Linked DNA regions of Homo sapiens. The protein of the gene in region 1 purifies or fractionates together with the protein of each later gene. This does not show direct contact. Each region holds a gene or a part of one and is shown on either strand. Other genes may lie near its edges.

Region 1 (12,599 bases):
GTATCCACAACTTTGCCCCCTCCCTTTTACCCCATTGACTGTGCCTCCTGTGCCCTTTGACTGCACCCCCTTAGTGGCTCCAGAATGACGCTGTTGAGGGTGAGTCCCAGCTCAGCCTCTGGCCATCGTGGTGGCTGAGGCCACATTGCTCAGGCTTCTAAGGTGTAAGTGGCATCACAGCAGTGCCTCCCACGGATTTTGTGAGGGCAGATTGCACTAAGATGGCTCAATGTGCTCAAGAGGCGACCTGGCTGCTGCCACGGCTGCTGCTGTTCTCACTGGACTCCTTGTTCCTTTTTCTTTCATTTGTTTGTTTTTGGAGATGGAGTCTCGCTCTGTCACCCAGGCTGGAGTGCAGTGGCACGATCTTGGCTCACTGCAACCTCTGCCTCCTGGGTTCAAGCGATTCTGCTGCCTCAGCCTCCTGAGTAGCTGGGACTATAGGCGCATGCCACCATGCCCGGCTAATTTTTGTATTTTTAGTAGAGACAGGGTTTCACTATGTTGGCCAGGCTGGTCCCAAACTCCTGACCTTGTGATCCACCCGCCTGCACCTCCCAAAGTGCTGTGATTACAGGCGTGAGCCACTGCCCGGCTCCTTGTTCCTTTGAACTGTCTCGCTCAGGACAGGACGGTAGTCCTTCTGCATCCTGCAAGACTTGGACAGGATTTCTTTCCATTTAACACTGTCTCCTAAAGTGCTGCTTTCCTTGGGGAACTTTGCTGTTCTTGCTAGTCCAGAACAAGTGGCACAACTGCCCTTGACCTCCACATGACCTTCTCAGGGCAGCCCAGACTCTAAATGTCTGTGACCTGCACCAGCAGCAGCAAGGCCATGCCGGCCGTGGTCCAGCCCGGCTGCTCTCCCCCACTCTGCAGTGTTTTTCCACACCCATGCTGCAGGTGCTGGTTGCGTTCCTGCTCCATCCTTCAGTGCGGAAGTGGCATTTTGCGGTTTTCTGTTGTCATGAAGCAAGTGCGCCACACTTGCCTGTCTTATGTGCGTGTGTATATGAGCATGCCCATCTCAGTCTCCCTGAGCGCCTCTTTTCCACCCGTCTCAGGCCTCTGTGTTAGCTGTTCCCTCTCTCTGAAACACCAAACTCCCTGATCTCAGCCTGTCTCTCCAGTCTCGACGTAACAGCATCTTCCCAGCGAGGCCTGCTCTGACCACACGGCCCGGGAAAGCAGCCCAGGCCCCCTCTCACTTCACCCTGTGCCCATTCTTGACCCTGTGTATTGTGTCTCTCCCTTGCCTGGTTTGTGTCAGGAAGGCAGAGGCCCTGCCTGTCCTGCTCACTGCCGCACCCCAGGCCCAGCATGCTGCCTGGCATGGGCAGGCATTGACTTGATATTAGCTGGGCAATGAATGACAGTGACTGAAAATGTAATAGCAAGTCAGGGCCTAGCACAGGAAAATAAGTGATTGCTATGTAAGTGAAGGGTTGCTAAGTAGGATTTGGGTCATAACATACTGTTAAGGATAATTTTTTTGTTCTCTACATGTAAAAATATGTATTTTTAAAAATTGGATGTCATGGGCTGGGTGTGGTGGCTCATGCCTGTAATCCCAGCACTTTGGGAGGCCGAGGCGGGTGGATCTCCTGAGGTCGGGAGTTCGAGACCAGCCTGACCAACATGGAGAAACCCCGTCTCTACTAAAAACACAAAATTATCCAGGCATGGTGGCACATGACTGTAATCCCAGCTACTAGGGAGGCTGAGGCAGGAGAAACACTTGAACCTGGGAGGCGGAGGTTGAGGTGAGCCGAGATCGCGCCATTGCACTCCAGCCTGGGCAACAAGAGTGAAACTCGGTCTCAAAAAAAAAAAATTTGATGTTATGGAATGAGGGAGACAAAAAATGCTCTACAACTATTAACTGATGCTTTTCTGGTTTTGTTCTCCAGACACCATTCGCTTTTCACCCAAGATGATTTGATGTCTTATAAAACTCTGATGAACCATGATGGCTACACAGACATTAAGTATAGACAGCTATCAAGATGGGCAACAGGTGAGCTTGAACTTGATTCTGCATTCTAATTACAAATCAACCTGGCACTCAAGCATGAACATTGCTTTGTATACTTGCAATTCAATTGCCATGAGGTTGCATGCTCAGTGTTAGTGTATTATGCATTTATTGTACATTCGTGTTCAGAAAAAAAGCCATAGAATAATACTATTTCGTTAACTGATACCAAGATTGCCAGGAATCTTGACTTCCCTAAGTCATATGACAGTTTCTTGGGAATTTACCTTTTTAATGTCAGTGTTAATTAGCACTGTTACTTTGAAAGAAAACCCGGTTGATTTTCATGATGACAGATTCCCATGTTGACTGGTGGCTCTTCTGAGTGTCTAACTGGATCAGCTTTTGAATGGGAATCTTGTAGCCTCGTCTCCCCAGTTGTAGGCATGAGAGGGGCTGTCCCAGTAATGAATTTGCAGGGGCCCCAGTGCTCTATCTTTGTACCTTGCTCGTGCTTGGATGGTTGTGCCATACACGGGCAGCTCTCCATTGCCCTCCCACCATAGATGAGACTTTGTTCTCCTGGAAGCTGTGGTGTTTTGTGCTTTTGAGTATCTGAGTGTTTTGTGTTCTGTGACCTGAATGAATTGAGGAGCAGGTGGATCGAGACTTGGCTGAGGCCCTTGTGGTCTTTCTTGGCTTGCGATCTTGTTAAACACGGTGTTCTGAACCCACTGGCATTTGGCTCATCATCCCACTGACTCTGGAGCCAGTGAAGGGATTTGGCCCTGCCCTTTACTTTCCTGCCCAGCAGGCAGGGGCAGTGCAGTACACCCCCCTCGGCTCTCCTCCCCACCTCGAGGACTTCGGTGGCAAGGATCAGGCTCCGGAAAACTCACTGGAGCCATGCTGGTGAGGTCTGAGGAGGGGTTAGGAGCTGAGGCGCTGGGTCCCCCTTTCCCTGGTGGTTAGTTTTACCAACCAGTCCTTGTTCAGTTCCTGTGGCAGAGATTTTTGTTGTTGGTGGTGGTGGTGTTAGTGTTTTTTTTTCTCTGTATAGCAATTAAAGGAGGGAGATTCTGTGATGTAGTCAGCCTGCTTCCTTAGCCTAGAAGTCCTTAGTCCTTTGGTATTTCCAATTGACTTTTTTTTTTTTTTCTAAAATGCAAATCTAATAATGTCCCGCCTGAGCTCTCCAGTGGCTCCCTGTGGATTCCTGTGGGTTTCATGCAAAGACTGAGCTGCTCTGTGGCCCGAATCGTCTGGCCCCTCTGGACCCCAGGACGCCCCCAACATCTCTGCCTGGCATATCTTGGGCACCTCTCTGCCTGCCCTGGAGCACCGGTCCTCACTGTTCCCATCACTCTTCTCCCTCCTGCCTGCCAGGTCTTTGCTCCGACCCCACTGCTGCCTCCTGTGCACCAAGGCACGGTGACCACCTCCAACACAGCCTGGTTGCTACCAGCCACCTCCTCCCAGGCAGCTGTGCCAGGTGCAGATGACACCTGGAGCACTGCCCTTTTCATACCCGAGTGTTTCCAAGGGCCTCGGAAGTGTTTAATCAGCATTATTTTAAATAAACATTGAAATATATCTACAGCGTAGACCTATCATAATTATTTTGCCATTTTTCCAAGGTTGAACATTTAGGTTTCTCTCTTTTCACAATCATTTTTTTTTCAAATACTGAAATGAATCTTTTAAGGCTTCTTATTTTTTATTATTTATTTATTTACTTATTTATTTATTTTGAGACAGAGTCTTGCTCTGTTGCCCCGGCTGGAGTGCAGTGGTGTGATCTCAGCTCACTGCAACCTCCGTCTCCCAGGTTCAAGCAATTCTCCTGTCTCAGCCTCCTGAGTACCTGGGATTACAGGTGTGTGCCACCACGCCCAGCTAATTTTTTTGTATTTTTAGTAGAGACAGGGTTTCACCATGTTGGCCAGGCTGATCTTGAACCCCTGACCTCAGGTGATCCGCCCACCTTGGCCTCCCAAAGTGCTGGGATCACAGGCATAAGCCACTGTGCCTGGCCTTTTTAAGGCTTTTTATACATGCTGGCAGATTGCCTTACACAAATACTGTGTCCACTTAGGCTTTATTGCTTTTATTTTTTTTTTTTAAGAGAAACATAAACAGTTTTCCTAATATGTTGTACCATTTAAAGGCAGCAGAATAGAAGTCATCTTATTGCAAAAACAAGACATTGGAGGGAAGAGAGCACAGGGCTGGAGGATGTGAGAGGCGTCCTGTGCGGGTGGGCGTTCATGGCTGGCCCCCAGTCTGTCTGGACAGTGGGGATGGCCCCGCTCCCATGAGGTCTCCCCGCCCCCGCTGCCCCAAGCTGCTTCCTCAAGGGGCAGAAGCATGGCCAAATCCACCGCGGGAGAAATGGCCCGTCCTGGTCCTGAGGAAGCTGAGGTCAGGACAGTCTAATCTGCTGCTCATGGATAACTAGAAGTTTACTTTCACGAAATTTTGTTTTTGTAAACTGATTTTTTTTAACGATTTAAATGTTTTTTACCTAAATGACAAAGGCATTGCTTGTTTAAAGCAGTTTAAATGATAGTATCTTTTAAGGCTTTAAGTAAACACAGCTGGCCTTTTCCTTTCTGAATGCAGTGACATTTTTATGGCTATGTATTGCTGAGGTTTGAGGGTAGATATGGGAGAAGTTCAACCTTGTCCCAAATATGTAGCGTATGGGTTAGGTTGTGTCTGTGACATGGTAAGAAGACCTTGGACTATTTGTCTATGCTTCTCTGACTGTAGTATTGCTACACGTGAGGAGATATAGCAATAGACGGAGGAGTAGATTGCACGTGTGCCGTTCTCTTCATTAGGCCATCGCCAGTGTTATTTTAAAATCATGAGCATTTCACAGACATTGGTTATCTCAGTTCTTAAGCAGTTTGGAAATTTTACCTTTATTTTAAAGCACATTAAATTCAAAGCTGTTTTGTTGGTAGCATTCTTTACATATGATTGCAGTCATACTGCTGTCTGGCAATTCCCCACTCCAACTGCATTCCTGTTGGAGCATGGAATACCTCGTAGTAGTTTGTGTTTGCTAATAAGAATTATCTTCCTCCTTTTACAGATGCAAGTAGTAACAGAGTTAAAGACAGAACAAGATCCAAACTGCTCTGAACCCGATGCAGAAGGAGTGAGCCCTCCCCCTGTGGAGTCTCAGACCCCGATGGATGTGGACAAGCAGGCCATTTATAGGTAGTGCCCGGGGTGCCGGCTGTGGGGGCCTCAGAGGAGTGAGGAGTGTCCACAAGTTTGTTAAAAGGAACACCAGAACTAGTAGCGAGGCAGAGTTGTGAGGTGCCATTATGATGTGATAACTGCTCGGCTGAAAATTTTCTCAGATTAAGATGTTATTTCTGGCCAGGTGTGGTGGCTCATGCCTGTAATCCTAGCACTTTGGGAGGCTGAGGCGGGCGGATCACTTGAGGTTAAGAGTTTGAGACCAGCCTGGCCAACATGGTGAAACTCCATCTCTACTAAAAATACAAAAATTAGCCAGACATGGTGGCACATGTCTGTAATCCCAGCTACTTGGGAGGCTGAGGCAGGAGAATCACTTGAACCGGGGAGGCGGAGGTTGCATTGAGCTGATATCGCACCACTGCACTCCAGCCTGGGCAACGAGAGCAAAACTCTGTCACACACACACACACACACACACACACACACACACAAAGATGTTATTTCTAATACCTATAAAAGTTTTAGAATATCAATCTATAAATTTTGTGTAACCTTGCAAAAAGAAATATTCAGGCACAGATGATTTTACTGAGAATTCTACCCAACATATAAAGAAGAAGAGAGCAGCAAGTCTGCATAGTCTCTTTCAGGAAGTAGAGGAGGAGTGAATGCTTCCCAACTCACTTTATAATTGACATCACTCTGACACTAAGACCAAAGACAATACCAAATAAGGAAAATACAGGCCAATATCCTTCATGAACTTAGATGTAAAAATCATCAATAAAATATTAACAAATCAATTCTAGCAATATGTAAAAAGAATAATACGTAGCGACCAAGTCAAGTTTTTCCTGGGAATGTCAGACTTGTTTAGTATTTAAAAGTCTGCCAGGCGCAGTGGCTCACACCTGTAATCCCAGAACTTTGGAAGGCCGAGGCAGGTGGATTACCTGAGGTCAGGAGTTCAAGACCAGACTGGCCAACATGGCGAAACCCTGTCTCTACCAAAAAATACAAATATTAGCCGGGTGTGGTGGTGCATGCCTGTAGTCCCAGCTACTCTGGAGGCTGAGGTGGGAGAATCACTTGAACCCGGTAGGCGGAGGTTGCAGTGAGCTGAGATCATGCCACTGTACTCCAGTCTGAGTGACAGAGAGTGAGGCCCTATCTCAAAAAAAAAAAATTTTTTTTTAAGTTCAGCATAGAATTATATATAACTCAGCAATTCTACTCCTATGCATATGTATACCTAACACAAATGAAAAAAGTCCACACAAAAACGTGTACATGAATTTTCATAGCAGCACAGCCTATCATGGCCAAAAGCTGGAAACAGTGCCCATGCCCATCAACTGATGAATGAACAGACACATTATGGCATCTCCATGCAATGCAAGAATATTTAGCAGTAAAAGGAATGAAGTGGCGGGCGCGGTGGCTCATGCCTGTAATCCCAGGACTTTGAGGGGCCAAGTCGGGCAGATCACTTTAGGTCAGGAGATCGAGACAAGCCTGGCCAAAATGGCGAAATGTTGTCTCTACTAAAACAAAAACTAGGCCAGGCATGGTGGCTCACGCCTGTAATCCCAGCACTTTGGGAGGCTGAGGCGGTTGGATCATCTGAGGTCAGGAGTTTGAGACCATCCTGACCAACGTGGAGAAACCCTGTCTCTAAAGATACAAAATTAGCCGAGTCATGGTGGTGCATGCCTGTAGTCCTAGCTACTTGGGAGGCTGAGGCAGGAGAATCGCTTGAACCCGAGAGGCGGAGGTTGTGGTGAACCGAGATCACGCCATTGCACTCCAGCCTGGGCAACAAGAGCGAAACTCCATCTCAAAAAATAAAAAAAATTAGCTGGGCATCATGGCGGGTGCCTGTAGTCCCGGCTACTTGGGGAGGCTGAGTAGGAGAATCGCTTAAACCTGGGAGGGCAGAGGTTGCAGTGACCCGAGATCGTGCCGCTGCACTCCAGCCTGGGCGACAGAGTGAGACTCCATCTCAAAAAAAAAAAAAAAAAAAAGGAATAAAGTACTGATACCCGTAAAACACTGGTAAGCCTTGGACACTTTATGCTGAGGGAAACAAGCCAGACACCACGGTCACAGGTTAGACGGTTCCCATTTAGACAGAATGTCTAGGAGAGGCAAATATATAGAGATAGCAAGTAGGTTCTAACAGGCTGGGGTCTGGGAAAAAATGGAGAATGACTGCTATTGGATACAGGGTTTCTTTGCGGGGATCATGGAAATGTTCCAAAGTTGACGGCGGCAATGCTGTGCAACTGTAAAAACCGTTGAATTGCATACTTTCAACGGGTGGACCGTGTGGCGTGTGCATTTTCACCCAACAGAGGTGTTAGTGAAGTAGTGCAGGCATACACGCAAAGACATTCTCACGGAGATGTAGAACGTAAATGGATTCTTTTTTTTCTTTTCTCCTCAGGCATCCACTATTTCCATTATTAGCTTTGTTGTTTGAAAAATGTGAACAATCTACACAGGGCTCTGAAGGCACAACTTCTGCCAGTTTTGATGTAGACATCGAAAATTTTGTAAGAAAGCAAGAGAAGGAAGGGAAACCTTTCTTTTGTGAAGATCCAGAAACTGATAATTTAGTAAGTAAAATAAATTTTATTTTTAGTTTTCAAAATGTGAAATCTGTTCATGAAATTTTAGGCTTCTAAGTAGAACTTTAGACTGCTTGTAGTTCTGCTAAAGGAGAGACTCATACAACTCTAAAAGAATTTTTATGGTGTGTGTAATGTGGATATCCCCAAGTCTTCCAGCCTTCTCTAGGTATCTTTTATTTATTTAGTTTTTATTTTTAGATTTATTTTATTTTTGTAGACACATCTTACTGTATTCCCCCAGATGGTCTCAAACTCCTGGCCTCAAGCAATCTTCCCTCCTCAGTCTCTCAAGGCCCAACCTACCCTTTCCTTTAAAAATAAAATAAAATAGGCCAGGCGTGGTGGCTCACACCTGTAATCCCAGCACTTTGGGAGGCCGAGGTGGGCAGATCACAAGGTCAGGAGTTCGAGACCAGCCTGGCCAACATCTGGTCTCGATGTTGGCCAAAATCCCATCTCTACTGAAAATACAAAATTAGCCAGGCATGGTGGCACATGCCTGTAGTCCCAGCTACTCAGGAGGCTGAGGCAGGAGAATCACTTGAACGCAGGAGGCGGAAGTTGCAGTGAGCCGAGATTGTGCCACTGCACTCCAGCCTGGGTGTCAGAGTGAGACTCTGTCTCAAAAAATAAAAATAAAATAAAATAAAATAAAATAATTTGAGCCTCCATGCCAAATGGACACGGGGATTCAGTTCTCTGCACAGTGTTTGTAAAGGTCCGTAGGGCTGGGGTGTTCGGGTGGCATGTCTGTGACCTGTGTCTGTCCTTGGCTTATCATGGACATGGACACAGACTTGAGCTGTATTCTCCAAGACAGCTCTGTCTTTTTTTTTTTTTTTTTTTGAGACGGAGTCTCGCTCTGTTGCCCAGGCTGGAGTGCAGTGGTGTGATCTCAGCTCACTGCAAGCTCCGCCTCCCAGGTTCAAGCCATTCTCCTGCCTCAGCCTCCCGAGTAGCTGGGACTACAGGCACCCGCCACCACGCCCGGCTAATTTTTTTTGTATTTTTAGTAGAGACGGGATTTCACCGTGTTAGCCAGGATAGTCTCGATCTCCTGATCTTGTGATCTGCCTGCCTCAGCCTCCCAAAGTGCAGGGATTACAGGTGTGAGCCACCACGCCCGGCGACAGCTCTGTCTTGAGGCTGACAGTGATTTGTGATGCCCTCCCCCCAGGGCCAGGGCTCCAAAATCCAGCGTTTTCTGTGCCCTCCAGAGGCAATGGAGAACATCTTGGTTCCGTCATCACTGGATTGCTCTGAATGAGCTGCACCTGAGGCACCTGTACAGCACTGTCAGCTTTGGGCAGACCACACTCTCTGGGTGTGCTCTCCTGCCAGAGTGTAACCACGTGTTTACTTCTCAGAGCTGGGTACACAAAGATCCGGCATCAGGGAACCTTCACTGGATTCCCTTCGAGCCATCTTGGTCCCATATCAAAACCCTGGTTAGGGCCTTCAACAGAAAAGGTTTTTGGAAAACTCATTTTTCCTGAATAAATTGCTGAGGTCTTAGTTTTTAAGAAAATTCTCATTATATACTCGATGCTTACCATGAAACAGATTTTGTGGGTGAGTTATCTGACTTGAATCTGTCTCCTCCTCTCTGAGATGAGACTAACAGTGCATGCTCTTTGGGTGAGGATCCGATGCTCTCTCCACCCCTGAGTCTGTGGTCCACATCCATCTTCCCATTGGCCCACACCTGGCTTGGCCCAGTGAGTAGAGCACAGGTGTCCTCTGCACCCCACTAGGCTGGCAGGGACCAAGGTTCTCTTGACTGGTGAGTGTTTAGCACAGGGCCTAGCAGAGTTTGACACTCCATCATTTTTGTTACTGAGTGATTCATTTATTCACTGCATAGATACCTACGAATTCCTACCACCAGATTTACAGGTGAAGGAGATGGGCTTCGGAGCTGCTGATTCATAGGCAGCTGGTGCTTATGAAAATGGCTGCATTATTGGTATTAGTTATCTATTGCTGTGGGACAAATTACCCCAAAATGTAGTTACTTAATATAAAACTATACAACTTTGGCCAGGCGTGGTGGCTCACGCCTGTAATCCCAGCACTTTGGGAGGCTGAGGCAGGTGGATCACCTGAGGTCAGGAGTTCGTGAACAGCCTGACCAACATGGTGAAACCCCATCTCTACTAAAAATACAAAAATTAGCTGGGCATGGTGGTGCACACCTGTAATCCCAGCTACTCAGGAGGCTGAGGCAGGAGAATCACTTGAACCCAGAAGGCAGAGGTTGTAGTGAGCTGAGATCGCACCACTGCACTTCAGCCTCCAGCTTGGGCAATAAGAGTGAAACTCTGTCTCAAAAAACAAAACAAAACAAAATGATATAACTTTTAGAAAAATCGCAAGAGAAAATCTTGAGGATCTAGAACTAGGCAAAGACACCAAAATGGAACTTTATGAAAATGTAGCACTAGCCTAGGGTGAGTGTGGATGTATCACTATTTGTGGATGTAGAAACAGGAGTAGATGAGGGTGAGTCACTTGTCCTGCCTGCCACAGAGCGAATCAGTGGAAGGGCTAGGCTTTGGCTCACAGCCCACACACCTAGCACTGGGATGCACCGAGGTCACCACCACGCGCCTTTGTCTTCCCTGCACACCAGATGCAGCCAAACACCAAAGCCCAGGTCAGTGGCACCGGAACAACACATCAGTTTAGAGGATTTCTGATGTTATTCCACTTTGGTTATTGGCAGTAGAGATGGTTCTATCTAATGACTAAGAACTGGTATGTAGGATCATGATAACTTACAATAATGCCACCTTTTTCTCTGAAAGTCTTCATTTTCTCTGCTCTAGATGGTAAAAGCAATCCAGGTTTTGCGCATTCATCTTCTTGAGCTGGAAAAGGTTAACGAACTCTGCAAAGATTTCTGCAGTCGATACATTGCTTGTCTGAAAACAAAAATGAACAGTGAAACTCTGTTGAGTGGAGAGCCTGGAAGCCCGTACTCACCAGTGCAGTCCCAGGTACTTACATTTGGGGGTCTCGCTTTCCCTCTCTGCCACTGTGAACATCTGCATTGAGTCATGAGACCACCAGCTCTTTCAGAATTCACTGGGTCATCTTTATGACTTTCTACAAGAAGGACCCTCTAGGTCTCTGACCCCAGCCTGGTTTGGGAATGAACTCCCTCAGATTATGAAGTGAGTCCTCAATCTGCATACTGGGCCCCCGGTCCCATGTTTATGGAAGGCACAATTCCATTCATTTCTTTCTTTTATTTCTTCTGAAAATATTTTACTTATTCTTTTGAAAAATTGTGTAAAATACACATAATATAAAATTTACCATCTTAGCTATTTTAAAATTTACAGTTCAATGGTGTTAAGTTTATTCACATTGTTGGGCAACCATCAACACCATCCATCTCCAGAACTTTCTCATCTTCTCAAACTCAAACTCTGACCCCATTAAACACTCATTCCGGATTCCCCCTCCCCTAGCCCCTGGAACCCACCGTTCTACTGTCTGTCTCTGTGAATTCGATGACTCCAGGTCTCTCATGTTAAGCGGAATCGTACAGTGTTTGTCCTTCTGGATCCTTTGCTTGTTTCATTGTGCAGAATGCCTGGAGGGTTCATCCATGCGGAAGCACTATTGTGTTTTAGCCATTCTGATGATATGTAGTGATATTAATATTTCTTTGTGGTTTTAATTTTCATTTCCCTGATGGCTAATAATGTTGAACATTATTATACCCTCTGTGTATTTTCTTTGATAAAATGTCTGCTGCTTATGTCTTTTGCCTTTTTTTTTTTTTTTTTTTTGAGACAGAGTCTCGCTCCATCACCCAGGCTGGAGTGCAGTGGCGCGATCTCGGCTTACTGCAAACTCCGCCTCCTGGGTTCATGCCATTCTCCTGCCTCACCCTCCTGAGTAGCTGGGACTACAGGTGCCTGCCACCACACCCGGCTAATTTTTTGTATTTTTAGTAGAGACGGGGTTTCACCGTATTAGCCAGGATGGTCTCGATCTCCTGACCTCGTGATCCGCCCGCCTTGGCCTCCCAAAGTGCTGGGATTACAAGCATGAGCTACCACGCCTGGCCGTCTTTTGCGCATTTTTTAGTTGGATTTTTTTTTAACTTCTGAGTGTTGAGAGTTCTTTGCTTATTGTAGATACTAGTTCTCTGTTGGATATGTGGTTTGCAAGTGTTTTCTCCAAGTCTATAGTAGCTAAGTATTTTTCTCATCCTCTTAACAGGTCTTTTTCAGAGCCAGCCTTTTTAATTTTAATAAAGTTCAATTTATTAGGTTTTCCTTTTATGGATCATTCTTTTGGTGTCAAGTCTAAGAACTCTTTGCCTAACCCTAGGTCCCAAAGACTTCGTCTTAAGTTTTTTCCTAAAAGTTTTTAAATAGAGACAAGGTCTCACTATGTTGCCCAGGCTTGTCCCAAACTCCTGGGCTCAAGTGTGAACCACCATGCCTGGCCTCAAAAGTTTTATAGTTGTCCATTTTGCATTTAAATCCGTGATCCATTTTGAGTGGATTTCTCTATAGAATAACTCTCAAAGCTGGGCACATTGTTTCCTCCCACCCTGTGATTCCTTTTCAAAATTGTTTAGCTGTTCTGGTTCCTTTGCCTGTCCACATAAATTTTAGAATGCTCTTGTCTAGAGCTACAAAAACATCTTGCTTAGATTTTGATAGGAATTGTATTATACCTGTATATCAATCTGGGGAGAATTGACATCTTTACTGCATTAAGTCTTCCAGTCCACAGGTATGGCATGTCTCTCC
Region 2 (12,599 bases), on another chromosome or scaffold:
ACCATACACATTGCATTCATGTATCAAAATACCACACTATACCCATAAATATGTACAATTATTATGTGTCAAAAACAATAGAAGCAAAAATGGACACGGACTTTCTCAAACACCAAAAGCTATAGTCTTCAGTTTCAGAATACTGATGAAAATTTGAAAAATATATACATGGATACTTATATAGATACACAAGGATATGTATATAACATGCACATAATATATACACCTATACATGTCTATGTTCAAGTATATGAATAAATATACAAACAGTTTAGCAATATATTTAATTTTCAGTTTTAAAAAAAACCTGATTCAAAAATCAGCAAACAACTTGAGTAGACATTTCTACAAAGAAAAAATACAGTTGACAAATAAACACATGAAAAGACATTCAACATCACTAAACATTAGGGAAATGCAAAGCAAAACCACAATGAAACACCACTTCACACCCATTAGGATGGCAACTATCAAAAAAAAACAGAAAATAACAAGTATTGACAAGGATGCCCAGAAACCAGAACCCATGTACACTGTCGGTGGAAATGTAAAATGGCATAGCCGCTGTGGAAAACAGTATGGTCGTTTCTTTAAAGATTTAAAATAGAATTGCCATATGATCCAGCAATTCCACTTCTGGGAATATATCCTAAAGAACTAAAAACGGGGTCTCTGCTGTGTTCATAGCAGCATTATTCACAAGCTAAAATGTGGGATTAACCCAAGTGTCCATCCACAGATGATGGAATAAGCAAAATGTGGTCCATCCATGAAATGGAACATGATTCAGTCTTTAAAAGGAAGGGAATGAGCCGGGCGCGGTGGCTCACGCCTGTAATCCCAGCACTTTGGGAGGCCGAGGCAGGTGGATCATGAGGTCAGGAGATCGAGACCATCCTGGCTAACACGGTGAAACCCCATCTCTACTAAAAATACAAAAAAAAAATTAGCTGGGCGTGATGGTGGGCGCCTGTAGTCCCAGCTACTCAGGAGGCTGAGGCAGGAGAATGGCATGAACCCGGGAGGCGGAGCTTGCAGTGAGCCAAGATTGCGCCACTGCACTCCAGCCTGGGCGAAAGTGCAAGACTTGGCCGGGCGCGGTGGCTCACGCGTGTAATCCCAACACTTTGGGAGGCCGAGGCAGGCGGATCACGAGGTCAAGACCATTCTAGCCAACATGGGGAAACCCCGTCTCTACTAAAAATACAAAAATTAGCTGGGCGTGGTGGCGGGCACCTGTAGTCCCAGCTACGCGGGGGGCTGAGGCAGAAGAATCGCTTGAATCCGGGAGGCGGAGCTTGCAGTGAGCCGAGATTGTGCCACCGCACTCCAGCCTGGGCGACAGAGCGAGACTCTGTCTCAAAAACAAAAAACAAAACAAAAAAACTGAGCTGGACATTTAAAAATGATTAAAATGAGCCTGGGAAACATAGTGAGACGTAGTGGGTGACAGAGCAAGAAAATATGGCTACAAATACGTATATGGTAGCCAGGCGCTGTGACTCACACCTGTAATCCCAGCACTTTAGGAGGCAGACGGAGATGGGCAGATCCCTTGAGCTCAGGAGTTTGGGACCAGCCTGGCCAACATGGCGAAATCCTGTCTCTACAAAAACTACAAAAATTACCCAGGTATGGTAGCACATGCCTGTGGTCCCAGCTACTCGGGTGGCTGAGGCAGGAGGATCACTTGAGGTAGAGGCTCAGTGACCGAGACTGCACCACCACATGCGCCCCAGAAGACAGAGTAACACCCTGTCTCAATTTAAAAAACAAAACAAAACCTGCCATCTTAACCATATACATATACACATATCATTAAGATGGCAGTTTTTTTGTTTTTTTTTTGTTTTTGGACAGAGTTTCGCTCTTGTCACCCAGGTTGGAGTGCAATGTCACGATCTTGGATCACTGCAACCTCCGCCTCCCAGGTTCAAGTGATTCTCCTGCCTCAGTTTCCCAAGTAGCTGGGACTACAGGCGTGGGCTACCACGCCCAGCTATTTTTCGTATTTGTAGTAGAGACGGGGTTTCACCATGTTGGCCAGGCTGGTCTCCAACTCCTGACCTCAGGTGATCCACCCAGCTTGGCCTCCCAAAGTGGTGGGAATACAGGTGTGAGCCACCATGCCCGGCTAAGATGGCAGATTTTTTTTTTTTTTTTGAGACGGAGTCTTGCTCTGTTGCCCAGGCTGGAGTGTAGTGGCGCAATCTCAGCTCACTGCAAGCTCCGCCTCCCGGGTTCATGCCATTCTCCTGCCTCAGCCTCCCAAGTAGCTGAGACTACAGGCGCCCACCATGACGCCTGGCTAATTTTTTGTATTTTTAGTAGAGACGGGGTTTCACCTTGTTAGCCAGGATGGTCTCGATCTCCTGACCTCGTGATCCATCCGCCTCAGCCTCCCAAAGTTCTGGGATTACAGGCGTGAGTCACCGCGCCCGGCCTGATGGCAGATTTTTTTAACGGTAAATTATATATTATGTGTATTTTAACACAGTTTTTTTTTTTTTGAGAGACAAGAGTCTTGATCTGTTGTCCAGGCTGGATTGCAGTGGTGCAATAAGCTCACTACAGCCTCAACTTCCTGGGTTCAAGCAATCTTCCTGCCTCAATCTCCTGAGTGGTTGAGACTACAGGCACACCCCACCTACCCTGCATCTGGCTAATTTTTTTTTCTTTTGAGACGGAGTCTTGCTCCGTGGCCCAGGCTGGAGTGCAGTGGCACGATCTTGGCTCACTGTAAGCTCCGCCTCCCGGGTTCAAGCCATTCTCCTGCCTCAGCATCCCAAGTAGCTGGGACTACAGGCGCCCGCCACCACACTCGGCTAATTTTTTGTATTTTTGGTAAAGATGGGGTTTCCCTGTGTTAGCTAGAATGGTCTCGATCCCCTGACCTCGTGATCCGCCCGCCTCGGCCTCCCAAAGTGCTGGGATTACAGGTGTGAGCCACCACGCCCAGCCAACATCTGGCTAATTTTTTAATCTTTAATAGAGATCAGATCTTGCTATGTTGCCCAGGCTGACAACTTTTTTGAATTGGAAAATTTTCTTAATTAAAAAATTTTATCTGAGAAGGGACTTGCATCTAGAATATATAAAGAGCTCTCATCACTCAACAACAAAAAGACAATTACACCAATTGGAAAATACAGGAAAGACCTGACTAGACAGCTCTCTAAAAATACACAGTGGTCAATAAGCACATGAGAAGATGCTCAGTATCATCTTCTCTCATTAGGGAAATGTAGATCAAAGCCACAGTGAGATACCACTGCACATCTACTAGCATGGCTAGAATTCAAAAGATGGATAATAACAAGTGCTGACAAGGATATGGGGAAATTGAATCCTTTTTACACTGCTGGTGGGAATGTGAAATGGTGCAGCCACTTTGGAAACAGTCTGGTAATTCCTCAAGAGAATAACCACAAAATTACCATATGACCCAAAAATTATATTCCTAGGCGAGCTGTTTTTACTCATGCTTTTAATAACAAACATGGGTGTCTCTTTCAACCCCACTTCTCCAACTCTCCGACACTAGGTGGGTGTCCTACAATTCAAGTAAAGTCTGGCACTACCTTCTGCGGTATAGGAAGGTAAGGTTGAAAGCGCTAACCCGCTAATCCTCCCTTGGCCTTTCTGGAGACCAGCTCCCATCCTGAAGCTATATCTAGGGCCCCCAGCCACCAGTTCTCTCATTAGCATACTAGACACTCTTAGGACTACAAAGGTCCCAAGGGCTTGGGGAGCTCCATGTCAGGAGAACAAAAAATCCTCCTACCACCCCTTTCAAAATTGATGGAGGTCATGATCCCACAGCTCTGTGAACATAAAACTGAAATCTACTAGCTTGTACACATTAGTGAATGAATTGTATGGCATGTGAACTATAACCCAATAAAGCTGGCACAAAGGGGGAGGTATGTATGCCCACTCAACAGAGTTTCTGTAAAGTTTAGGAGAAATAAAGTATGCAAAAGCCATCTGTAAGCAGCTCAACACTGCACTGTTAGGATCAGCCAATCGTGCAGGAACAGCTCCCTCTGGCCCTGCACCAACCTTCTGGTCTAAAATCACAGCTCAACATCCAGCCTAGGGACAAAGCAGGGCACGGATGCCAGCTGCCAGCTGTGAGCCAGCACAGCTGCTGGCTTGCAGGAGCCTTGATCTGCAGAGGCCCAGATTCCCACAGCCCAGGGTTGCCAGGTCACCTCCTCCAACAAAGCCCGGGTGTTCCGCTCGTCCCTAGGGGAAGAACATGCCAGGTCTCCACTGAGGGTGGCCACTTAAGTGGGCACTTTCAATCCAGCAAAACACACAGCTCATCCAACACCCGACCCTACTACCCTCCCCAAAACTCCTCCAAGTTATGCGGCCCAAGGCCCTGGCTGCCCAGTCGGCGTCGCAAGTGAGACACCATGGGCACAAAATATTCCCAGTCATCCTACCTTCCAGTAATGCAGGCTCCACAGGGTGGGAGATCAGCCCTGGGCCCAACCACCTGGACGGGAGCGCAGCACCCTCGCCGGGGCCCCACACATCCCTGGCCAGCCACCAGCCTCCTGGAAGATGCCTGCCTCCCAAACTCACAGAGCCGGAGAGCCCTGGCAAGCAGCTTCATCCTGCGGTAAGTGGGCAAACTGTTTACCCAGTGACAAGTATGATGCCCAGCAGAGCCCAAGCCTGTGTCTGCCTGGCCGGCTCAGCAGTGAGCCGGTGTGATCCCTCCCTGATAGAAAGCACCAGGCTCCTGCTCCTCCTAGGACCGCCCCTCCCCCACCAGCCCCCGGCAAGCCGCCTCCTCGGCTTCCGGAACTGGATCACAGGATGTTCTCTACAAAAGACCAGTGATGCAAGGAATCCATGACTCGGCCTGAACTCACAGACAGGGAAACAGGACAGGGCCACCACCCCTCTGCGGGAGAGGATGAACTGGGTGGGGCCACAAGCAACACTCATAAGGGTTCCCACCTCCAGGACCTTAAACCTCGCACCACTCAGGCTGGCCCTCAGGCAAGTAGAAGAATGAGTTCCACCTGGGCGGAGTTCCACCTGGGCAGAGAGGTCTTGGCTCACAGGCACCGGGAGAGCTGGAAGGCTGCGGGGAAGCCGAGGAAGGCCAACACACCGCACAACACGGCAGGTGCCTGGCCCTCCTCTGACAGTGGCCCTCAAGCTCCAGGAGGGCCGAGGAAAATGCAGATTCCTGGGCCTACCCCTCCCTGACCTTCCCCGCCCCTGGAGTTAGAGGCAGTAGCTCTGGGGTGGAGGCTCAGGAGCCTGGTTTTCTTTTTATTCTTCATTGTGGTAAACATCAAATGCTTACAAGAGTAGAGGGAGGAGGGAGTGAACCCCTATGTCCCCATCAAGCAGCCCCAAAACAGTCAGCTCAGGGCACCTCTGGTCTCTGCTCCCACCTGCTCCCCATGCCAGGTTATTCTGCAGCAAATCCCGGATTTCCCAGTACGACATCGTAAATATGTCTGCATTTCCTCTCAAAGATAAAAGCTCCTTGTGAAAAACCTAAAGGAGGGGTATGGTGACTCATGCCCACAATTCCAGCACTTTGGGAGGCCGAGGTGGGAAGATCACTTGAGCCCAGGAGTTCAAGACCTGCCTCGGCAACAAAGTGAGATCATGTCTCTACAAAAAATCTTTTTAACATTAGCCAGGCACAGAGGCGTGCACTCGTAGTCCCAGCTACTCGAGAGGCTGAGGTGGGAGAATCCCTTGAGCCCAGAAGGTTGGGGCTGCAGAGAACCATGATTGCACCACTGCACCACTTAGTTGCCTGGCCAACTAAGCGAGACCCTGTCTCAAATAAAAATAAAAACCACAAAACAAAGATCTCATCTAAAATATCATCCAAATTCCTAATATCATTAAATAGCAAGTGACTTCACGTTTCTGTCCTAAATGAATTGAAATCTGCATTTGTGAACTTCATTCACAAGATCCCAAGTCTCTGTGGCCTGGTGAAGAGAAACTGCAGTGTGCAGGGAACAGGGTAATACAGGGCTACGGGGACACAGGAGCGAGGCCCAGCACTGAGCTCGATCCGGTTCCATCGACACGAAATTCTAGAAGAGGCACAGCGAGTGAGTGAAAGCAGATCTTTTTGCCAGGGGCCAACAGTAGGGGAATTTTGGGAGTTTGGAAATATTCGACATCACAACTGGGCCCGCCACTACTCAGTGTGCACACTCATCAAAACTCAGCAAACTGTACGTTTCAAATATTCTTGTGTATGCATTCTAAATCTATCTCAATAAAGCTGGTTTAAAAAAGCAAACTACAAAACAATTATCCTACCTTAAAAAAAAAAGCAGTGATTCCTTAAAATCATTATCAAGGGACTATTCAAGTTTCCCCATTATCTCCTCAATCTTCATCTTGTTGACTCTCTGCTGAAGTACTGTTCACATGCAGAAAACCCATATTTGTAACAGACTTCCCCAGTTATTCCCATGCAGGGGTCCAAGGATGGGGAGGCACATCCTTGATCCCCCTCCCCAGGAGGGCTCTGAGAGTGAGAGGCCAAGGGGTGGGATGGCAAGACAGCCTATGGGGTCACCCCCTGGTGCAGGCTACACAGGCCAGGTGGGTCACACAGGAGAAAGCCACTTCTGGTCTGACCAGAACTGGGGAGCCAGCTAGCTGCAGGTGCCAATTCCAGGGCAATGCCAGGCTAAGTGGCCCACTTACAGCGTGAGGTTGGACAGTGGGTAGACAAAGGCCTCCCCACGCACAGGCTCTCTGGGTTACAAAGACTGCATCTTCACCCAGGGTCCACACATCCCAGCAGCAAGAGAGCCAGCACTGTAAATCATTTTGCGGAATGCTCCAGAATACAAGCTCTGAGTGTGGCTTCTGTAAATCAGGTTCTTTGTTTTTTTTTTTTTCTTTTTTTTTGAGACGGAGTTTTGCTCTTGTTGCTCAGGCTGGAGTGCAATGGCACAATCTCGGCTCACTGCAACCTCCGCCTCCCAGGTTCAAGCGATTCTCCTGCCTCAGCTTCCCAAGTAACTGGGATTACAGGCACCCGCCACTACGCCCAGCTAACTTTTTTTTCTTTTTTTTTGAGACCAAGTCTCACTCTGTCGCCCAGGCTGGAGTGCAGTGGCGGGATCTCAGCTCACTGCAAGCTCCGCCTCCCGGGTTCATGCCACTCTCCTGCCTGCAGCCTCCCCAGCAGCTGGGACTACAGGCGCACACCGCCACGCCCGCCTAATTTTTTGTATTTTTAGTAGAGATGGGGTTTCACTGTGTTAGCCAGAATGGTCTCCATCTCCTGACCTCGTGATCCGCCCACCTGGGCCTCCCAAAGTGCTGGGATTACAGGCGTGAGCCACAGCGCCTGGCCAGGTTCTTTCTTTTCATTAATTCCATTATAAAACCAAAGACAGAGCCCGGCCTGGTGCAGTGGCTCACACCTGTAATTCCAGCACTTTGGGAGGCCGAGGCGGGCAGATCACTTAAGGTCAGGAGTTCGAGACCAGCCTGGCAAACACAGTGAAACCCCGTCTCTACTAAAAATACAAAAATTAGCCGAGTGTGGTGGTGGGTGCCTGTAGTCCCAGCTACTCGGGAAGCTGAGGAGAGGAGAATTGCTTGAACTGGGGAGGCAGAGGCTGCAGTGAGCCAAGATCCTGTCACTGCACTCCAGCCTGGGTGACAGAGTGAGACTCTCTTAAAAAAAAAAAAAAAAAAAGGCCGGGTGCGGTGGCTCACGCCCGTAATCCCAGCACTTTGGGAGGCCAAGGTGGGAGGACCACAGGGTCAGGAGATCGAGACCATCCTGGCTAACACAGTGAAACCCCATCTCTAATAAAAATACAAAAAAAAATTAGCCGGGTGTGGTGGCGGATGCCTGTAGTCCCAGCTACTCAGGAGGCTGAGGCAGGAGAATGGCGTGAACCCGGGAGGCGGAGCTTGCAGTGAGCCGAGATCGCGCCACTGCACTCCAGCCTGGGCAACAGAGTGAGACTCCGTCTCAAGAAAAAAAAAAAAAAAAGACAAAGGTAGAGCCCCTCTTTGTCTTTTCCCTTGGGGGAAATAATTCTAACCCCATAACATACTGAAACTCATAGCCACTCAGCTGCTGTTTATTGACCTGTCAACTAGACCTCAGACACTATTCTAGGCATTCATGGTACCACATGGTACAACACAATTCCTGATCTCAGGAAACTTCCTGGTAGATCTGCATCTAAGAGCATGGCAAGCAAAGAAAACACAAAAAAACCTTGTAGATTTCACACATCTACCTATAAATAAAGCATGCCAAGTTATCTGCCTGCTGGGTGGTGTCCATGCCAAGGTCCCCCTCCATCAGCATGGTTATTCCAGAGCTGGCTACAGTCCCCAGAAAGCCTTGGAGCTTCCTTTAGGAACACCCTGCCCCCCACAGACCTACTAGTAAATTGATGTTTAAATTTCTCTACATATTGCACTCCCCAAAAGATAGCCACCAGCCACAGGTGGCTACCCACCTGAATTTAAATTGATGCAATTAAAAATTCTGTTCCCTTCGTGACCAGCCTGACCAACATGGTGAAACTCCATCTCTACTAAAAAAATACAAAAAAATTAGCTGGGCGTGGTGGCGGGCGTGTGTAATCCCAACTACTCAGGAGGCTGAGGCAGGAGAATCAGTAGAACCTCGAAGGCAGAGGTTGCAGTGAGCCGAGATGGCATCTAGCCTGGGGGACAGGGCAAGACTCCCTCTCAAAAAAAAAAAAAAAAGAAAGAAAAAAAAGCCCCTATCCCTTCAACAATGTCTGAACTGAGAACATGTGACCATTGTGTCTAAGATGGTGGGAATTTGGACGTTCTCACCCCTGCTAGACTGTGACCCCTTAAGGCAGGGGCCACATTTTCCACACGTTTCCCTCCTGGTGCTATGCTTCTTGGCAGTGTCCAGTAAAGCATTGTTAAATTCATGGGCTTGGCTGTGCTAGGCCAGGAGGCTCCTCTTTCAACTTGGGGTGTCAGCTCAGATGTCCTTAAAGGGCTCCCCATCCTAGTACAGTCACTCTCCAGTGTCCTGCGGTTTCTCTGAGTCAAGCCGATGGAACCACAGCCTTCTCTTCACAGGCCTACCCCTACCACCACTCCCGCCTACTCCTTTGGCAGTCACGCTCTGCACCTGAGGCTCACCTGCTCACTCATGAGCAGGGGCAGCCAAGCATCCTCCTCACCAGTCGTCTGGCCAAGGCAGCCACTTAGAAACAATATGCAATTGGCCAGGCACGGTGGCTCATGCCTGTAATTCTCAGCACTTTGGGAGGCCGAGGCGGGCAGATCATCTAAGGTCAGGAGTTCGAGACTAGCCTGGCCAACATGGTGAAACCCCATCTCTACTAAAAATACAAAAATTAGCTGGGCACGGTGGTGCACGCCTGTAGTCCCAGCTACTCGGGAGGCTGAGACAGGAGAATCACTTGAACAAAGGAGGCAGAGGTTGCAGTTAGCCGAGAGTGTGTCACCGCACTCCAGCCTGGGTGACAGAGTGAGACTCCATCTCCAAAAAATAAAGAAACAATATGCAATTGTGAACCTGAGATAGCAGACTTGGTTTACAGTGGGTAAGAAAAAGCACACACACGGGCCAGGCGCAGTGGCTCACGCCTGTAATCCCAGCACTTTGGGAGGCCGAGGCGGGCAGATCACCTGAGGTCAGGAGTTCAAGACCAGCCTGGCCAACATGGTGAAACCCCGTCTCTACTAAAAATACAAAAATTAGCCAGACATGATGGCGGGTACCTATAATCCCAGCAACTCAGGAGGCTGAGGTGGAAGAATCGCTTGAACCCAGGAGGCAGAGGTTGCAGTGAGCTGAGATCGTGCCATTGCATTCCAGTCTGGGTGACAGAGCGAGACTGTCTCAAAAACAAACAAACAAACAAACAAAAAGCACACACTTACTGTATGGAAGTGTCTAAAGCTATACAAAAATCTAGTAACTAGGCTAGGAGCAGTGGCTCACGCCTGTAATCCCAGCACTTTGAGAGGCTGAGGCGGGAGGATCACCTGAGGTCAGGAGTTCAAGACCAGCCTGGCCAACATGATGAAACCCCATCTCTACTAAAAATACAAAAATTAGCTGGGCGTGGTGGCGCACGCCTGTAGTCCCAGCTACTCAGGAGGCTGAGGCACAAGAACTTTTTCCAGCTGGGTGCGGTGGTTCACACCTGTAATCCCAGCACTTTGGGAGGCCGAGGAGGGCAGATCACAGATCACCTGAGGTCAGGAGTTCGAGACCAGCCTGGCCAACATGGAGAAACCCCATCTCTACTAAAAACACAAAAATTAGCCAGGCGTGGTGGCGCACTCTTGTAGTCCCAGCTACTCGGGAGGCTGAGGCCCAAGAATCACTTGAGCCCAGGAGGCAGGGGTTGCAGTGAGCTGAGATCGGGCCACTGCACTCCAGCCCGGGTGACAGAGTGAGACTCTGTCTCAAAAAACAAAAAATCTAGTAACTGTTAGAAGCTGGGTGAAAAAAGACAACATGTATAAATTGGCTATTCACCACCCTGAAGAAGTAAATAAAAGGCCAGCCTTCCACGGGAAGATTTAAATCAAGGTTTCCTTTATTCAGGAGAGGGGTGGGAAGAATACTGGATCTGGAGTCAGAAGACTTGGGCAGGGGCTGTCCCTGGATCTCCTGGAGCAGGATGACCTTACACAGTTACTCAACTCCCAAAACTGCCATTTCCTCCTCCACACAGGTAAGGGTGGCACTACCGACCATCAACCTCCCAGGGAATTGGGCAAACCAAGTGGGATGAGACAGGTATAAGCTCTTTGCAAACCATGGAGCCCAAGTTTCCCAGCCAATACTCAGCAGAGCTGATTCAGGAACCTGATGCAGGCTGTCTGTCTCCAGTTATTTCCTTTTTTTTTTTTGCCCCGCTTTCCCCACCTCCAGAGTCGATGGGACCAGAACAGCCACAGAGCCAAAGTCAAAGGGGCAGGGCTCCCCCAAAGACGTTCCCCCTCTGGAAAAGTCAAAACCGACCTTGAGGTAAGGAGAGGCCCTCGACCAGGCCAGAAGATGAGACTGAGAGTCAAGAATCGCCATAGACCCAGGACTTGCTATATGCCCAGCCTTCCTGGAGATGTCAACATCTACAGGAAAGTAACTTGCTTCTATTGGACTTGGCTTGAGCCCAAGGTCAGTCTGTGATGCCCAACCCCCAAATGTGAGGAACCCACTACCAAAACAGAAAGCAGCTCTCACTCCTGGTAGTTCATCAAGCAGGATAGGACCGGTCGCAGGCCACAGAGCCTGTGTGCAGTGGCTGAAAACCTAGACTCCTTGTCCTCACTTAGCTCATGCACAAATGCCAGCCTGCTGCTTCCGATTCTGCCGAAGAGAACTGCAGAGTAACCTTCAGGCTGCCCTCCCCACCTCCTATGGGAAATGAGCTTGTTCATGATCTCCAGCCTCCAGCTTCCTCTGGGGGCCTGCATCTATCTACTCAGTACCTGGTGGAAGAAGAGGGGGTGCTCTAGAAGGACAACCCTTTGCCTCTATTGTGTAAGATGCTTTCAGGCCCAACAGACCACTGATTCCCTTTTCTTCATAGTAAACTGTTAGAGGTAGACAGTATTATCTGTTCTTCCTTTCAACACCTGCCCTCCCCCAAACCGAAGCAGTGCACTGAAGACGGTAGCTCTGCAACCTCCTCCCACAGGGGCACCCACCGAGGGGCTCGCGCGGCTCTGGGCACCTCCCCTCCACCTCTGGGGGCTTTGGTTAGCGCAGCACAACCGCCGAGGTAATGATCCCGAATCCTCGAGGAGGCTAAGCAGGACCACGGGGCTGAGGCTCCGGGATGCTCGGGCGAGGCCCGAGGCGGGGCGGCCCACGGGCGCCGGTCGCCGGGCTCTGGAGCTGTGCATTGACCTCCGCCCGCCCCGTCCCTGCCTGGCTTTCTCGCCCAAACGGCCCGTGGCGCGGCCGCCGCCCTGGAGATGCGGCCAGGAGGAGCCGGCTGGAGGCGGGCGGGGGCCGCCCGGCTTGTGCGGCATCGCGAGTCGCATCCCGGCCGGGCGGGCGTCCGGGGCGGCGGCGCGGAAGGCCGTGCGGGGAATCGGCGGGCGGGGGCGGCCTCGGCGGGTGGGGACCACAGAGCCAAGCGGGGCAGGCCTGGGGCGGTGACCGGCGCGCCTGGCCGCTGCAGGCTGCGCGCGGGCCCTCTCTTACCGGCAGATCTGGATGGCGGACGGCGTCTCGACGTCTGGGCCCGACATGCTGGGGGCTGCGGCGGCGGATGCGGCGGGCGGCTGCAGAAGGGCGCAGGTGTCTGGCAGGCCCGGCGCGGAATGAATGAGCCCGGGCCGCGCCATAAAGGGGGAGGGCAGAGGTGGAGCGATGGGGCTGGTGAGGCGGGGCCTGCGCGCCGGGGGCAATCGAACGCGGCCTCCCCGCGCCGACCCCGCCCCCGCGCCGGCCCCACCCCGAGCCCCGCCTCCCAGGCCGCCAAGGCTGCAGAGAGCTCGCGCGGGCGTACGATTCTGGCGGCGTGGGGGCCCAGGCAGCCGCCGCTTCCAGAAGGTTCGGTGGCGGTTGGGCCGCGCCGGTGCGGGGA

Evidence for each region.
Region 2: the proteins of PKNOX1 (region 1) and ACOT7 purify together in Homo sapiens (affinity purification with mass spectrometry; 2 studies listed by BioGRID and IntAct, with this or other methods). This does not show direct contact.

What each region holds. Positions count from the first base shown.
Region 1 is NC_000021.9:43,002,416-43,015,014, forward strand, and holds part of PKNOX1 (homeobox protein PKNOX1), read left to right. Parts: intron 1-1,910; 5' UTR 1,911-1,966; coding exon 1,967-2,017; intron 2,018-5,075; coding exon 5,076-5,203; intron 5,204-7,637; coding exon 7,638-7,809; intron 7,810-10,652; coding exon 10,653-10,823; intron 10,824-12,599. UniProt on the Homo sapiens protein: Activates transcription in the presence of PBX1A and HOXA1.
Region 2 is NC_000001.11:6,381,043-6,393,641, forward strand, and holds part of ACOT7 (cytosolic acyl coenzyme A thioester hydrolase), read right to left. Parts: 5' UTR 12,358-12,599; coding exon 12,215-12,357; intron 4,727-12,214; exon of another isoform or gene 4,625-4,726; coding exon of another isoform or gene 4,452-4,624; intron 1-4,451. UniProt on the Homo sapiens protein: Catalyzes the hydrolysis of acyl-CoAs into free fatty acids and coenzyme A (CoASH), regulating their respective intracellular levels.